Linked DNA regions of Homo sapiens: region 2 is linked to region 1. Evidence: fine-mapped expression QTL. Tissue or cell type: atrial appendage. Region 1 holds a variant in brackets; the other region holds the start of a gene. All regions are shown on one strand. Distances are between the middles of the regions.

Region 1 (2,759 bases):
CTAGGAATTTTCATATGTGTCAGAATTGTTTTCTGGAGGCATAGTGTCTGGATTACAGCCATGCCAGTTATTAGTTATGTGATCTTGAATAAATTATTTCTTTGTGCTTTGTTTCCTCATCTGAAAAATGAGATACTGGCACTACATCAAACGACAACTGTCTCTTCTGTAATATGAATATAATAGCATGTCCTCCAAAAAACCATTTTGGAGATTATATGACCTAATATATGTCAAGTCCTTAGTATGGCACCTGGTGCATAGTAGGCATCACGTGTAATCTATCTTCATTAATATTATCTTATAATTATTTATATTATCATCCCACTTAACAGATGAGGACACAGAAATATTAAAAAGTTGATTTAATTTCTCCATGGCTGCACAGTTAGGCAACAGCAGAGCTCGAGTATACACTCAGGTAGTTCAATAATATCTTCTTCAAAGTCCAATATAGAACATGTCCATTAAAAATGTAGTTTTTAAGTCATTGATTACATATTTATTATTTGCCAGTTATGTACAGATACATTGAATAAAACAGTTTAAATTGAACAACACAGACTCAGTTGGCAGGAAGAGAGGAGAAAGTGAGGAGGGTGTCCATGTGTATTAGTCTATTCTCACACTGCTATAAAGGACTACCTGAGACTGGGTAATTTATAAAGAAAAGAGGTTTCATTGACTCAGTTCCACAGGCTGTACAAGTTTCCTCAGGAAACTTACAATCATGGTGGAAGGGTAAAAAGAAAGCAAGCACATTTTCACATGGCAGCAGGAGAGAGAGAGCAAAGGGGGAAGTGCCACTCACTTTTAAACCATCAGATATTGTGAGAATTCACTATCATAAGAACAGCAAGGGGGAAATCTGCCCCCATGATCCAATCCTCTCCCACCAGATCCCTCCCCCAACACTGGGAATTACAATTCAACATGAGATTTGGGTAGGGACACAGAGACAAACTATATCATTCTGCCCTGGCCTCTCCCAAATCTCATGTCCTTCTCACATTTCCAAACACAATCATGGCTACCCAATAGTCCCTCAAAGTTTTAATTCATTCCAGCATTAACTCAAAAGTCCAAGTCCAAAGTTTCATCTGAGAGAAGGAAACTTCCTTCTGCCTATCGGCCTATAAAATCAAAAGCAAGTTAGTTAATTCCTGGGGAGACAAGCATTGGGTAAATGCTCCCATTCCAAAAGGGAGAAATTGGCCAAAACAAAGGGGCTACAGGCCCCATGCAAGTCTGAAATCCAGCAGGGCAGTCACTAAATCTTAAAGCTCCAAAATGATTTCCTTTGACTCCATGTCTCACATCCAGGCTACATTGATGCAAGGGGTGGGCTCCCAAGGCGTTGAGTAGCTCTGCCCCTGTGGATCTGCAGGGTACAGTCCCTGTGGCTGCTTTCACTGACCAGCATTGAATGCCTGTGGCTTTTCCAGGTGCATGGTGCAAGTTG[T/C]TGATGGATCTGATTCTGGGGTCTGGAGGATGGTGGCCCCTTCTCACAGCTCCACTAAGCAGTGTCCCAGTGGGGACTCTATGTGAGGGCTCCAATGCCACATTTACCCCTCTGCACTGCCCTAGTAGAGGGTCTCCATGAAGGCTCCACCCCTGCTGCTTGTATTGAGTAATACCAGCAGGCTTGTATTAGTCAATTTTTCACACTGCTATAAAGAAATATCCAAGACTGGGTAATTTATAAGGGAAAGAGGTTGAATTGACTCACAGTTCCATATGGCTGGGAGGGCTCAGGAAACTTACAATCATGATAGAAGGTGGAGAAGCAAGGACCTTCTTCACATGGCAGCAGGAGAGAGAAGTGCCAAGTGAGGACGTGCCACACTTTTTAAACCATCAGATCTCATGAGAATCCCTCACTATCATGAGAATAGCATGAGGGAAACTGCCTCCATAATGCAATCACCTCCCTCCCTCAACACGTGGGGATTACAATTTGAGATGAGATTTGTGGGGACACAGAGCCAAACCATATCAAGACTTCTGCCTGGGCATCCAGGCATTTCCATACATCCCTTGAAATCTAGGCAGAGGCTCCCAAACCTCAACTCTTGTCTTCTGCACACCCACAGGCCCAGGCTCATGAAGTCACCAAGGCTTGGGCTTGCACCCTCTGAAGCAATGGCCCGAGCTGTACCTTGACTTCTTTTAGCCAAAGCTAGAGCTGAAGCATCTGGGATGCAGGGCACCATGTCTTAAGGCTGCACGGGACCTTCAACCTGGCCCATGAAACTATTTTTCCATCCTAAGCCTCCAGGCCTGTGATGGGAAGGGCTGCTGTGAAGGTCTCTGAAATGCCCTGGAAGCATTTTCCCCATTGTCTTGGCTATTAACATTCAGCTCTTCTTTACTTATGCAAATTTCTGCAGCCTTGAATTCCTCCCCAGAAAATGGATTTTTCTTTTCTACCTCATGGTCAGGCTGCAAATTTTCCAAACTTTTATGCTCTGCTTCCCCTTTTAATATAAGTTTGAGTTTCAGGTCATTTGTTTGTTTATGCAAATGAGCACAAGCTTTTAGAAGTAGCCAGGCCACATCTTGAATGCTTTGCTGCTTAGAAATTTCTTCTACCAGATACCCTAAATAATCTTTCCAAGTTCAAAGTTTCACAGATCTCTAGAGCAGGGGCACAATGCCACTAGTCTCTTTGCTAAAGCATAGCATGAGTGACCTTTACTCCAGTTCCCAATAAGTTCCTCATCTCTGTCTGAGAGTACCTCAGCCTGGAATTCACTGTC
Region 2 (2,629 bases), 340 kb after region 1:
CAGTATTTGTTAAATAAATGAATCCATTTGAGCTTCTGCATATTTGAAATTTCATAAGTATATATAAATGGTAAATTGTGATAGACTCAAAGGCTAGTATCATTAGGCAATTGTCTCCCGTTCCCAAAAGACTTCCTAAGTCTACTAAATGATCTGTTTTTAATATGAAAGCAAAGTTATCTAAAAGAAAGGAGAAATCTTTAGTTTTTTTGACTTCGAGATTCTTTGCAATTTAAGCTTTTTTTTTTTTTTTTTTTTTTTTTTTTGCTTTTCTTTCAATGGACACTTTCGAAGTTTTACATAAAAACATTAAAACCTCTTGTTTAATGTAGTGGGATTAAGCTGCCGAAGGCAATCCCTACATGTGAGGAAAATATGCTTCCGACACCCCAATTTTTTTTTTCTCCCTACCCATCCTCTCTGGTGGTCCTGACGCTCCCAGCCCCTTTTTGTGTTTCTTGATTCCATGCTGAGAACTCGCAATACAAACTCAAAGCCCACATTTGTGAGGTGGTTGGGTCAGGACTGCAACTAAAAATGATTATTGTTTTTTAGGTTTCTGGACAGTTCAACACCAGCCTTTGGTTTTGCCTCAGAAGCAGGGAACTTCTCTAGGCCCCTATTTTGCCTTTCAGCTATTGATGATCCAAATCATACCAGCGATTAGGAGGATCATTACCAGACACAAGGCCAGGTACGTTTAAAAAATAAATAAACCAAGCGCAGGTGCACACTCCGAACGCTCATCCCCACCCCCACTTTCCAATCCAACAGTAGGTAACGAGAAATGAATTTTCTAGACTTTTTTTCCTGCAGCAGTTGCTGTTACCAGAAACAAAGTTAGATGATATACAATCTAATCTTCATTGCTCTAAAAGTCCTCTCCCCATGCCCCCCAGGCTGCCTCAATTCTCTAGTTTCTTATTCCTTATAAGCAGGGGATGGAGCTGAACCAAGTCGGCCTTCCCCTCCCAGGGCCTTCTCCTCTTGGTCTGGCTTCCATTTCAGATGCGAATTAACCCTCCCAATACCCTTTCAGAAGCAAGGAGTCCCCTTTTTCTCCGCCTCCAGCCTCAGCTAGGTTTTCCTCATTTCGGATTTTTCTACTGCTCATTCCCAAATGAGTCACGCATGACGACAATTTCCACTCTGCTATGTCAGCCTGGAGATGTCCCCCAAGTGATGGCATCTGCTCTCGGAAAGAAAGGTCATCGGTGCCACGACCAGCCCCGCTAACCCAGAGCGGCCGGTGGGCCCCAGTCCCGAGAGTCAGGGCGCGCGGCGGAGGCGAGGCCGGGGCGGCCTCCGCCCTCCCGGCCGCTCCCCCTCGCGCCGCCCCGGCTCCTCCCTCCGGCCCTCGGCGGGCACCTGGCGGCGGCGGGCAGGGGGCGGCGCTGCGCGCGTCACGCGGCTGGGTGGGATAGCGGGCAGGTGACACCCGGCGGCCTCCTCCCCTTTCCAACCCAGTCGGCGGCCGGGACAGCGGGGGCCGCTGTGAGGAGCTCCGCGCTCGCGCTGCCAGTCGCCGCCCTCTCTCCCGCGCGCGCCCGGCGCTTCGGCTCCGCTCCCTGTGCGGTGAGTGCGGGGTTCCAGGCCGGCGGGCAGGGGCCAAACTTTCCCGGCGCGCGGAGGAGAAGAGACTGGGGAGGGAGGCAGAGCCGAGGGGAACGGCGTCGGGAGTGGCCGGATGGAGGAACTTGGGCGCGGCGCGCGAGAAGTGGGACCCGGGTGCGGGGGCCCCGGGAGCGGGGCCAGGCCCTCCCTGGGCTCGGGAGGCGCTTGGGAAGTTCTGTCCCCGCTGCCTGCGCGTGGGGAGGACCGAGGCCCTTTTCGCCGGAGCGCGGGGCCGCGGCGCTCACCTGCGCCTTCTCGGGAGCCCCCACCCGGCAGCATCCCGAAGGGAAGGTCGGGCCCGGTGGGCGCGCTGCGGAGCGGAGCCTGGACTGGGGTCCCGCGCGGCGCTGGCCCTGCGGAGCGGAGCGGGAGGGGCAGAGGTGCTCGCCGGCGGGACTGGGAGGGAGAAGGACCTGCTCGACCTTGGACGCGGAGGTCATTTTCCCAGCTCCGGGGTCTGGCCTCGCTAGCCACCCCCCCAAATTCCGGAGCCCCTTTCTTTCTGTTTCCTTCCTTCCCCTTTGGGCGCTTTTTTTGCTCCCGCGGCCAGATGAACTTGGGGCGCTGTCCCTTCGGCTCCCCGAGCCGCATCCTGTCTTGGTGGCTGCTGCTGGCCGGGAGGAGGCTGATGAATACAGAGCCGTGGAACAGGTCGTGCCGGAGATGGAAACAGGAAAGCCTGTTGTTTTGTCGTCCCAGGTATCGTTGGTTCTTTGGGAAATGGGCTTTCCCAGGTTCGTTGGGAAATGGGCTTTCCCAGGTTCGTTGGGAAATGGGCTTTCCCCCTTCAAGTCAGAGCTGTTTCAAACTTCACCCGGTGCGGACAGAGCGCTCTTTGGAGCTCCCTGGGGAACTCGGGACGGGAAGGAGCGGGTCTTTACACCTGTCCTGCTCCCAGTGTAGTTAGTCCCGCGTCGACTGAAGAACAGTTTTAGCGACCCGAGTTCCTCGCCAGTGGTCTTTTCCCTCTTGCTACGATCTCCCCTCGGAAAGCATGTTCACTTAACCCTGTGCT

Direction of the effects. Positions count from the first base shown, and alleles are read on the strand shown. Sizes are in standard deviations (SD) of each study's normalised expression.
In carriers of allele T in region 1, the expression in atrial appendage of the gene that starts at base 1,466 in region 2 tends to be lower than with C alone (moderate effect, 0.41 SD a copy in GTEx).

The links. PIP is the estimated chance that this variant, and not a neighbour inherited with it, causes the effect.
Region 2: ELOVL7 starts here. The variant in region 1 is fine-mapped to the expression of ELOVL7 in atrial appendage (GTEx, PIP above 0.99).

Annotation. Positions count from the first base shown.
Region 1 is chr5:61,187,537-61,190,295 of GRCh38, reverse strand. All of the region lies in intron 3 of SMIM15-AS1 (SMIM15 antisense RNA 1), which reads right to left. Among named protein-coding and RNA genes, the nearest start is that of SMIM15, 26 kb to the right of the region's middle. RefSeq lists an enhancer at 2,081-2,596. The variant T/C (reference allele first, on the strand shown) is at 1,463.
Region 2 is chr5:60,843,106-60,845,734 of GRCh38, reverse strand. It overlaps ELOVL7 (ELOVL fatty acid elongase 7), which reads left to right and starts at 1,466. Exons shown (of 9, transcript NM_024930.3): 1 at 1,466-1,575. RefSeq lists silencers at 1,245-1,544, 1,565-1,724, 1,735-1,794.